Linked DNA regions of Homo sapiens. The protein of the gene in region 1 purifies or fractionates together with the protein of each later gene. This does not show direct contact. Each region holds a gene or a part of one and is shown in the gene's direction. Other genes may lie near its edges. The genes, in order: BCAN, VCAN and CCNYL1.

What was found.
Region 2: the proteins of BCAN (region 1) and VCAN purify together in Homo sapiens (affinity purification with mass spectrometry; 3 studies listed by BioGRID and IntAct, with this or other methods). This does not show direct contact.
Region 3: the proteins of BCAN (region 1) and CCNYL1 purify together in Homo sapiens (affinity purification with mass spectrometry; 2 studies listed by BioGRID and IntAct, with this or other methods). This does not show direct contact.

Annotation. Positions count from the first base shown.
Region 1 is NC_000001.11:156,645,117-156,648,716, forward strand, and holds part of BCAN (brevican core protein isoform 1 precursor), read left to right. Parts: exon of another isoform or gene 1-266; coding exon of another isoform or gene 267-393; intron 394-619; exon of another isoform or gene 620-930; coding exon of another isoform or gene 931-938; coding exon 939-1,029; exon of another isoform or gene 1,030-1,684; coding exon 1,685-2,059; intron 2,060-2,391; coding exon 2,392-2,566; intron 2,567-2,866; coding exon 2,867-2,994; intron 2,995-3,451; coding exon 3,452-3,600. UniProt on the Homo sapiens protein: May play a role in the terminally differentiating and the adult nervous system during postnatal development. Could stabilize interactions between hyaluronan (HA) and brain proteoglycans.
Region 2 is NC_000005.10:83,537,616-83,541,436, forward strand, and holds part of VCAN (versican core protein isoform 1 precursor), read left to right. Parts: coding exon 1-3,821. UniProt on the Homo sapiens protein: May play a role in intercellular signaling and in connecting cells with the extracellular matrix. May take part in the regulation of cell motility, growth and differentiation. Binds hyaluronic acid.
Region 3 is NC_000002.12:207,709,421-207,713,241, forward strand, and holds the start of CCNYL1 (cyclin-Y-like protein 1), read left to right. Parts: upstream 1-2,219; 5' UTR 2,220-2,476; coding exon 2,477-2,696; intron 2,697-3,821. UniProt on the Homo sapiens protein: Key regulator of Wnt signaling implicated in various biological processes including male fertility, embryonic neurogenesis and cortex development. Activates the cyclin-dependent kinase CDK16, and promotes sperm maturation.

The DNA of each region.
Region 1 (3,600 bases):
GTTCTAGAGCTTCTGATAGCCAGGGGTAGGAAGGGGTAGCCCCTCCCATTTATTCTCCCCCCCCTTAGTCCACCCTCCAGCCCAAGGCTTTCACAAAAGGTAGGGTGGGGGAAGGGAGGGGCTGGATAGAGGCCAGACTGGCAGAGACAGGGGCTTTGTCCCAACTGATTTCTGAGCCAAGAGTTCCGGTGGGAAAGCCCGTGCCAGGCAGAAAGGAGAGGCTGGGAAGAAGAAGGGAGGAGGCAGCCAAGGAAGGGGGATGGAGAATGTTGGGGAGTAAAGAGAGGAGTTTCCTTACAAATAATGGTGGGGAGGAAGTAGAGGAGAGGGTGGGCTCAGGAGAAGCTGTGCTTACTTGCGTTCGGTCTAGGAGGCCCTCCTGGAAAAGGCCAGGTGAGTATGGTGTCCCTGGAGGCAGGGACAGTCTAGAAGGCAGAAGAGGCTAAAGAGATACTATGGGAGAAGGCTCTGGGTTCGAGGAAGGAGTCTGGCACTGGGAGGAGCAGATGGAATTCTGAGTATAAGAGCACCCACCATTCATGCTGTAAACTGAGCTCCTACTGTCTGCCTGGTGCTATGCATTTGTACAGGAGTTTTAAGATACTAAACACTCTCAAAGCACATGGTCCTATCTCAACTCATGAGATAGTAATGATGATGCTTTTTTATAAGTAAGAAAATAAAGGCTCAGAGAAGGTAAGGAGCTTGGCTTAGGTCACACAGTGAGTTGACTAGGACTCGGGTTTTGGTTCTGAGAAGAAATCACTTGCTGGGAAGATGGGGATCAGAAACAGAGAGTCCATGGTGATGTGAAGGTAGGGGACTTCTGGAGCCAGGATATGTGTGAACCCACATGGGTGTGGTAGGGAGCAGGGGGGAAGTCCATCCTGAAGTCTAACCCCATCTTTCCTTCTCATGTCCCTCTGTCAGCCTGCAGCATGGCCCAGCTGTTCCTGCCCCTGCTGGCAGCCCTGGTCCTGGCCCAGGCTCCTGCAGCTTTAGCAGATGTTCTGGAAGGAGACAGCTCAGGTAAGCAACCCCACTTGGGGTCACCGTCTCTGTCTTGTTCAGCCCTAACCAACTGCTTCCAGGCTTAGGGGCCCCAGGAAGAGAGAGAATTGGAGGGCTGTGGGGAAGCGTCCAGGCTGGAACACTTGGAAATAAGGGCTGAGCTGTGAGCATCTGGTGGGTTGGAGAAATCATGGGGCAGGACTAGGGAAGGGCACTGGGTGCAAGGCTTTGGGCCCCTAAGGTGGAGGATAGGGGATCCTGAAGCTAGGAGGTGGGAAAGGGGTGGAACTGGGAGAAACCCTGAAGGAGGCCCTAAAGGGAGCAGACTGGGAAACTGGGCTGGAGGACTCAGGGGGCGAGGTTGGAGGACCCTGGGGTGTGGTCTAGGAATTTTGGAGAGGAAGTGGAAGACTCTGAGAGCAGGGCAAGGAATCCTGGGGGCTGAATTGACTGGGAGACTTTGGGGGATGGGTCTGGAGACCGTCGGGGTGGTCCTGGAGGACCTAGAGGTAGGGCTGCAGGACCCTGGCCCCTGGCCCCTGGCCCCTGGTCCTAGGGGGGCCGGGGAATCCTGGGGCCGGAAGGAGGGATCCTGGAGCGGGGCTTGGAGGCCACCGGGTGGGACTCTGAGGGTCGACAGCGTTAAGTTCCAGCCGGCTCCACCCGTTCACAGAGGACCGCGCTTTTCGCGTGCGCATCGCGGGCGACGCGCCACTGCAGGGCGTGCTCGGCGGCGCCCTCACCATCCCTTGCCACGTCCACTACCTGCGGCCACCGCCGAGCCGCCGGGCTGTGCTGGGCTCTCCGCGGGTCAAGTGGACTTTCCTGTCCCGGGGCCGGGAGGCAGAGGTGCTGGTGGCGCGGGGAGTGCGCGTCAAGGTGAACGAGGCCTACCGGTTCCGCGTGGCACTGCCTGCGTACCCAGCGTCGCTCACCGACGTCTCCCTGGCGCTGAGCGAGCTGCGCCCCAACGACTCAGGTATCTATCGCTGTGAGGTCCAGCACGGCATCGATGACAGCAGCGACGCTGTGGAGGTCAAGGTCAAAGGTGAGAGGGCAGGGAGGTTCCAGAGGGAGGGAGGGAGGGAGGGAAGGGAGGACTCTTGCCTTCGGGGATCCCACAGTGTGAGAGGGAAGCAAAGGTAGCTGGAAGGCGCAGCCTGGGTTGGAAAAAGAGTGAGGAGACACGGGCCTTTGTTGTCTCCTTTCTCTCTTCAGGTGGAGGACATTCTACCCACAATCTAACTTAAGTCCCTCATGCTGTAGAGTGAGCACAATTGAACTTTATTTACCCTTGTGTACAGAGGAGTGACAAGGAGGGTGAGGGGAGGCCAGCGTGCTGGGTGCTCACCTGGCTCAGGGGTCCTCTCTGCCCCACAGGGGTCGTCTTTCTCTACCGAGAGGGCTCTGCCCGCTATGCTTTCTCCTTTTCTGGGGCCCAGGAGGCCTGTGCCCGCATTGGAGCCCACATCGCCACCCCGGAGCAGCTCTATGCCGCCTACCTTGGGGGCTATGAGCAATGTGATGCTGGCTGGCTGTCGGATCAGACCGTGAGGTGGGCAGGGGCTGTGGATTGGGGCTTCTATTGGCCCCTGAGGTGGCCATGGCCCCCCTTCTGCTGGGTGCTGCCTGCTGTGTCAGGCTGGACATGCAGGGCTTTTTGCCTCTGGGGGATGAGGCTGGTCTGAGGAGGGGAGGTGAGGACCCTGAGCATGTGCATCCCTGCAGTGCTAGAAGGACAGCCAGCTGTCAGCAAGTGTCTGCACTGTGGTGGCAGTGGGGTTCAATAGAATCAATATGGGCTGGCTCCCTGGTGAAAGCATCTGTACTAAGTGATTCTGTCCTTCCTCCCTAGGTATCCCATCCAGACCCCACGAGAGGCCTGTTACGGAGACATGGATGGCTTCCCCGGGGTCCGGAACTATGGTGTGGTGGACCCGGATGACCTCTATGATGTGTACTGTTATGCTGAAGACCTAAATGGTGATTAGGAGTGAGAGGTTCCCAGGGGACAATTTCCTACTCCCATGCTGCCCATAGGTCCTCCCGGGGCCTCTGCAGGACCTTACTATCCCTCCTGAGTTTAAGGGGGCAAGCAGGAGTAAGGAGACAATTGGTGTCCCTCTCTCCAAACACTGTCACAGAGGCAAGCTCATGACCAAAGTCTCAGCCAGGCAGCAGGATACCGAGTTTAACTCATCTACCACCTGCCAGGTGGACTCTGTGCATGACTCTGCAGAACAAGAAGTTTGGGCCCCATCTCTTTGAGCTCTAATATCCATCTTGAGGTTCTATTCAGACTATGATCCTATGAAGTAGAGTAGTTGACTCCCTGCCACAGATGAGGGAACTGGAGAAGCTTGCCCAGGGTTCCCATGGGAGACCAGAGTGGAAGGAGCTACCAGCTGCCTGATAACCCAGCCTTCTCTTCTCCACCCAGGAGAACTGTTCCTGGGTGACCCTCCAGAGAAGCTGACATTGGAGGAAGCACGGGCGTACTGCCAGGAGCGGGGTGCAGAGATTGCCACCACGGGCCAACTGTATGCAGCCTGGGATGGTGGCCTGGACCACTGCAGCCCAGGGTGGCTA
Region 2 (3,821 bases), on another chromosome or scaffold:
AACCTGTATCTCTGTTTCCTGAAGAGTCTTCAGGAGAGATTGCCATTGACCAAGAATCTCAGAAAATAGCCTTTGCAAGGGCTACAGAAGTAACATTTGGTGAAGAGGTAGAAAAAAGTACTTCTGTCACATACACTCCCACTATAGTTCCAAGTTCTGCATCAGCATATGTTTCAGAGGAAGAAGCAGTTACCCTAATAGGAAATCCTTGGCCAGATGACCTGTTGTCTACCAAAGAAAGCTGGGTAGAAGCAACTCCTAGACAAGTTGTAGAGCTCTCAGGGAGTTCTTCGATTCCAATTACAGAAGGCTCTGGAGAAGCAGAAGAAGATGAAGATACAATGTTCACCATGGTAACTGATTTATCACAGAGAAATACTACTGATACACTCATTACTTTAGACACTAGCAGGATAATCACAGAAAGCTTTTTTGAGGTTCCTGCAACCACCATTTATCCAGTTTCTGAACAACCTTCTGCAAAAGTGGTGCCTACCAAGTTTGTAAGTGAAACAGACACTTCTGAGTGGATTTCCAGTACCACTGTTGAGGAAAAGAAAAGGAAGGAGGAGGAGGGAACTACAGGTACGGCTTCTACATTTGAGGTATATTCATCTACACAGAGATCGGATCAATTAATTTTACCCTTTGAATTAGAAAGTCCAAATGTAGCTACATCTAGTGATTCAGGTACCAGGAAAAGTTTTATGTCCTTGACAACACCAACACAGTCTGAAAGGGAAATGACAGATTCTACTCCTGTCTTTACAGAAACAAATACATTAGAAAATTTGGGGGCACAGACCACTGAGCACAGCAGTATCCATCAACCTGGGGTTCAGGAAGGGCTGACCACTCTCCCACGTAGTCCTGCCTCTGTCTTTATGGAGCAGGGCTCTGGAGAAGCTGCTGCCGACCCAGAAACCACCACTGTTTCTTCATTTTCATTAAACGTAGAGTATGCAATTCAAGCCGAAAAGGAAGTAGCTGGCACTTTGTCTCCGCATGTGGAAACTACATTCTCCACTGAGCCAACAGGACTGGTTTTGAGTACAGTAATGGACAGAGTAGTTGCTGAAAATATAACCCAAACATCCAGGGAAATAGTGATTTCAGAGCGATTAGGAGAACCAAATTATGGGGCAGAAATAAGGGGCTTTTCCACAGGTTTTCCTTTGGAGGAAGATTTCAGTGGTGACTTTAGAGAATACTCAACAGTGTCTCATCCCATAGCAAAAGAAGAAACGGTAATGATGGAAGGCTCTGGAGATGCAGCATTTAGGGACACCCAGACTTCACCATCTACAGTACCTACTTCAGTTCACATCAGTCACATATCTGACTCAGAAGGACCCAGTAGCACCATGGTCAGCACTTCAGCCTTCCCCTGGGAAGAGTTTACATCCTCAGCTGAGGGCTCAGGTGAGCAACTGGTCACAGTCAGCAGCTCTGTTGTTCCAGTGCTTCCCAGTGCTGTGCAAAAGTTTTCTGGTACAGCTTCCTCCATTATCGACGAAGGATTGGGAGAAGTGGGTACTGTCAATGAAATTGATAGAAGATCCACCATTTTACCAACAGCAGAAGTGGAAGGTACGAAAGCTCCAGTAGAGAAGGAGGAAGTAAAGGTCAGTGGCACAGTTTCAACAAACTTTCCCCAAACTATAGAGCCAGCCAAATTATGGTCTAGGCAAGAAGTCAACCCTGTAAGACAAGAAATTGAAAGTGAAACAACATCAGAGGAACAAATTCAAGAAGAAAAGTCATTTGAATCCCCTCAAAACTCTCCTGCAACAGAACAAACAATCTTTGATTCACAGACATTTACTGAAACTGAACTCAAAACCACAGATTATTCTGTACTAACAACAAAGAAAACTTACAGTGATGATAAAGAAATGAAGGAGGAAGACACTTCTTTAGTTAACATGTCTACTCCAGATCCAGATGCAAATGGCTTGGAATCTTACACAACTCTCCCTGAAGCTACTGAAAAGTCACATTTTTTCTTAGCTACTGCATTAGTAACTGAATCTATACCAGCTGAACATGTAGTCACAGATTCACCAATCAAAAAGGAAGAAAGTACAAAACATTTTCCGAAAGGCATGAGACCAACAATTCAAGAGTCAGATACTGAGCTCTTATTCTCTGGACTGGGATCAGGAGAAGAAGTTTTACCTACTCTACCAACAGAGTCAGTGAATTTTACTGAAGTGGAACAAATCAATAACACATTATATCCCCACACTTCTCAAGTGGAAAGTACCTCAAGTGACAAAATTGAAGACTTTAACAGAATGGAAAATGTGGCAAAAGAAGTTGGACCACTCGTATCTCAAACAGACATCTTTGAAGGTAGTGGGTCAGTAACCAGCACAACATTAATAGAAATTTTAAGTGACACTGGAGCAGAAGGACCCACGGTGGCACCTCTCCCTTTCTCCACGGACATCGGACATCCTCAAAATCAGACTGTCAGGTGGGCAGAAGAAATCCAGACTAGTAGACCACAAACCATAACTGAACAAGACTCTAACAAGAATTCTTCAACAGCAGAAATTAACGAAACAACAACCTCATCTACTGATTTTCTGGCTAGAGCTTATGGTTTTGAAATGGCCAAAGAATTTGTTACATCAGCACCAAAACCATCTGACTTGTATTATGAACCTTCTGGAGAAGGATCTGGAGAAGTGGATATTGTTGATTCATTTCACACTTCTGCAACTACTCAGGCAACCAGACAAGAAAGCAGCACCACATTTGTTTCTGATGGGTCCCTGGAAAAACATCCTGAGGTGCCAAGCGCTAAAGCTGTTACTGCTGATGGATTCCCAACAGTTTCAGTGATGCTGCCTCTTCATTCAGAGCAGAACAAAAGCTCCCCTGATCCAACTAGCACACTGTCAAATACAGTGTCATATGAGAGGTCCACAGACGGTAGTTTCCAAGACCGTTTCAGGGAATTCGAGGATTCCACCTTAAAACCTAACAGAAAAAAACCCACTGAAAATATTATCATAGACCTGGACAAAGAGGACAAGGATTTAATATTGACAATTACAGAGAGTACCATCCTTGAAATTCTACCTGAGCTGACATCGGATAAAAATACTATCATAGATATTGATCATACTAAACCTGTGTATGAAGACATTCTTGGAATGCAAACAGATATAGATACAGAGGTACCATCAGAACCACATGACAGTAATGATGAAAGTAATGATGACAGCACTCAAGTTCAAGAGATCTATGAGGCAGCTGTCAACCTTTCTTTAACTGAGGAAACATTTGAGGGCTCTGCTGATGTTCTGGCTAGCTACACTCAGGCAACACATGATGAATCAATGACTTATGAAGATAGAAGCCAACTAGATCACATGGGCTTTCACTTCACAACTGGGATCCCTGCTCCTAGCACAGAAACAGAATTAGACGTTTTACTTCCCACGGCAACATCCCTGCCAATTCCTCGTAAGTCTGCCACAGTTATTCCAGAGATTGAAGGAATAAAAGCTGAAGCAAAAGCCCTGGATGACATGTTTGAATCAAGCACTTTGTCTGATGGTCAAGCTATTGCAGACCAAAGTGAAATAATACCAACATTGGGCCAATTTGAAAGGACTCAGGAGGAGTATGAAGACAAAAAACATGCTGGTCCTTCTTTTCAGCCAGAATTCTCTTCAGGAGCTGAGGAGGCATTAGTAGACCATACTCCCTATCTAAGTATTGCTACTACCCACCTTATGGATCAGAGTGTAACAGAGGTGCCTGATGTGATGGAAGGATCCAATCCCCCATATTACACTGATACAACA
Region 3 (3,821 bases), on another chromosome or scaffold:
GCAACATCCCCAGCACTTAAAAAGTATGTGACATGTGCTAAGAGCTCAGGTATTGAATGGATAGTGAACGTATGAGTTAACTCTGGACCTATATAAAGTCTCAGCTTCTTTCACAGAATCAAACTCTTGCTTAATTCAAAGCACATTCCTCCTACTTGCTTCCCTTTGCTCTCCCAGGCTTGCCACTGTTACAGAATTTTTTTTTCTTAATTCTCTCTAATATTCCCTTCATTCAAAATGTTTTAAAATCTATTTCCGTAACAATGCTTCCCAATATCTTCCTGGTTAGCAAGTTTTAAATTCTTCAGTTTTCAAGGTCGTAGATATCTATTTTTGTGTATGTCTGTTGTTAAATGCAGGCATTATTTTGTACCTTAAAATAGGCATCGTCTCAAGTCTACAAGAATCATCCAAAATGGTATCTAATGACATTCCTAGGGTTTCAGACAATTTTTTTTTTCTTTGAGACGGAGTCTTGCTCTGTCGCCCAGGCTGGAGTGCAGTGGACTGATCTTGGCTCACTGCAATCTCTGCCTCCCAGGTTCAGGAGATTCTCCTGCCTCAGCCTCCCTAGTAGCTGGGACTATGGGTGGACGCCACCATGCCTGGCTAATTTTTGTGTTTTTAGTAGAGACGGGGTTTCTCCATGTTGGTCAGGCTGGTCTTGAACTCCTGACCTCAAGCAATTCACCCGCCTCTGCCTCTCTAAGTGCTGGGATTACAGACGTGAGCCACCGCGCCCAACAAGAGCAAAACTCCGTCTCAAAAAAAAAAAAACAAAAAAAAAACAATCCCATTTTGCAGGTTTTATAGAAGAAATTGGGACGCAGAAGTTAAGTTACTTCCGCAAGCTTACATGACTGCTCAGGGTGAGGGTCCCTGATCATGATGATCAGAAAATAAAGGTAGAAATCAAGCTTAGGGAGGAAGTGACATTGTGTGTATATATATATATTTGTTTATTTATTTTTATTTTTATGTTTTATTTTTTTGAAACGGAGCCTAGGTCGCCCAGGCTGGAGTGCAATGGCGCGATCTCGGCTTACGGCAACCTCTGCCTCCCGGGTTCAAGTGATTCTCCTGCCTCAGCCTCCCGAGTAGCTGGGAATACGGGCGCGTGCCACCATGCCCGGCTAATTTTTTGTATTTTTAGTAGAGACGGGATTTCACCGTGTTAGCCAGGATGGTCTGGATCTCCTGACCTGGTGATCCGCCCGCCTCGGCCTCCCAAAGTGTTGGGATTACAGGCATGAGCCACCGCGCCCGGCCGGGATTGTTTTTAAGGGTTAAATAAATATACCACAGTTGGAACACTGTCTGGCACATAGTGCTTGCCAAATGGTAACTATTCATCTTCATGGAATCAAGACTGTGGTGCCCCACTGCATGGTTCTCAGTTTTGCGTGAGAAAATCGTGCTTTCTGTGCTGTTTTTAGTACAAGAAGAGAAACCTGGAAGTCCCTGCCTAGAGGAGAGAAACAGGCAAGAAAAGGGAGTTGGCGAGTCCCAGCATTTCAGAGTTGGCAGGGACGAGTTAGGTCCCTATTTTATGGATGAGGAAGTGGAAGGGTGACGTGTCCTCGAGTCTCATTCAAGACCCACAGCCACAACTCTTTATGGAGAGTAGGACCAGGGCCCCAGGGTTGCTATGATCACGTTGCAGGTGAAAACTAACGCTCATTGGAAGACAGGAGCGGAGCACTGAGTTACAAAAACAGTTAACAATTTGGGTGTAACCAAGTTTAGTGAGCAAACGAAAGCTGTCAGACTCGGAAGAAGAGTTGCTAATGGAGCGAACTCTTTACTAATAACGGCTTTCTACAGAGATCATTGACACAGCTTCCAGTTACAAATGCCCGTGCGCTTCCAGTAGGACCGGAAAGCTCCCAGCAGCCAGCGATGAATGAAAACCCGAGTCTGGGATAGCGGCGTGAGGGGCTGGGCAGCTGCCAGGCGGGGGCGGGGCAGCAGGTCACGTGCCTGGCTTCGAGGCGGGCGCCGGAGGGGGAACTCTGACCATGATTGGTTCCTCCTAACCAGGTGACCGCAGGTCGCGTTCCGGTTGGCAGGCACCGGCCAGGGCCAGCGGCCTTCAGTCGGTAGGCGGCGGCGGAAGGAGGAGGAGCTCCAGCCGCGCTCTCTCCCGGCAGTGGCTGTGCTTCACAGCGCTTGTTGGGTTCCCCACCCCTTTTAAATAAGCCGGGCTGGTCACCGCCCTCGCAGACGAGTCAGCTTAAGGGAGGCGGCGGCAGCGCGGCGGTGGGGGTGCGGCCGAGGCCCGAGCCCTGCCCGGGGCCGGGCCGCGGGGCGGGCGGGCGAACCGCGGGCGAGGCGGCGTCTGCTTGCGCGGTGCAGCCCCAGCGTAGCCCGGGGCTGCCGGTGCCGGCCGCGCCATTGTTGGGGGAGGGGGCGGCTGTTGAGGGCGGCGGAGTAGGGGGCGAGCGAAGGCGGTGGCAGAGAGGAGCGGAGGCTTCCCATGGGGAACACGCTGACCTGTTGCGTGTCCCCCAATGCCAGCCCCAAGCTGGGCCGGCGCGCGGGGTCGGCGGAGCTGTACTGCGCGTCCGACATCTACGAGGCGGTGTCCGGGGACGCGGTGGCGGTAGCGCCCGCTGTGGTGGAGCCTGCCGAGTTGGATTTCGGAGAGGGCGAGGGCCACCACCTGCAGCACATCAGCGACCGCGAGATGCCCGAAGGTAAGGAGGCGGCGGATGCCATCCGCCCTCGGGCTCACCTCTGCCCGCCTCCTCCCCCAGAGTCCCCCGGGAGGCATCCGCCGCCTCGGGCTCCTTCCTGCCGGTAGCCGGCCCCGGGACGAAGGCTGGTTCTGCCTCGCGTCCCCACCCCTTATTCTTGCCCTGCTGCGTCTGGCCAGTTTCTTTTCCTCCTCCTTACCGTAACGCCCAGTTCTTGCTCCCGCTTCCCATTCTCCCAAGCCGGCGTGGGACCCTCTAGTCCGCCGCCCTTCTTGTTTGTAGCTCTGTTCATTGTCTGGTGGGACTTTGCTAAGACTTTTGGGGTATATTGTTTTCCTTTTCTCAATGGAAACTCAAATACCTCAACTTCGGAGTACTCATCCCATTCCCTCCCTTAACCCATCCAGATGGTACCTAAGTGAAGGAACCAGGTAAGGGTCTGATTGTTCCTTCCTCCCATCCGTGAAGATAGCTGATGCCCGCGACAGTTTAGACCCAGATGTTTGAGGATTTCTTATCTAGACTCAAAATAGAGGTTGCCATAGGAGACACTATATGGTATTCCTAATAGGTTAAGTCGGCGTGAAAGAAGCTGCTTTATTCCTTCCAACTATAATTTGAACACAGAAAGAAAGAAAATGGGGGGAGGGGCGTAAAATGACTGTGAAGGGTGTGAGAGGTTATTACCAGGGGTGCAGACAAGTTGTTTTTTTGAGACGGAATCTCGTTTTGTCGCCCGCCCAGGCTGGAGTGCAGTGGCGCGATCTCGGCTCGCTGCAACCTCCGCCTCTCGGTTTCAAGCGATTCCTCTGCCTCAGCCTCCCGAGTAGCTGGGATTACAGGCGTGCGCCACCACGCCCAGCTAATTTTTGAATTTTTAGTAGAGACGGGGTTTCACCATGTTGGTCAGGCTGGTCTCTAACTCCAGAGTTCTTGATCCGCCCGCCTCGGCCTCCCAAAGTGCTGGGATTACAGGCGTGAGCCACCGCGCCCAGAGGTTGTTAACTCAAAGGAGTTTAGCCACGGAGTTCTGATTACTTTAAAATTCCCACGGTGGCAAATACATCTCCAGCCATTCTCCGGTGACTTAACAGACTTCAATACCTCCTTGTTCTAAAAGAGAGG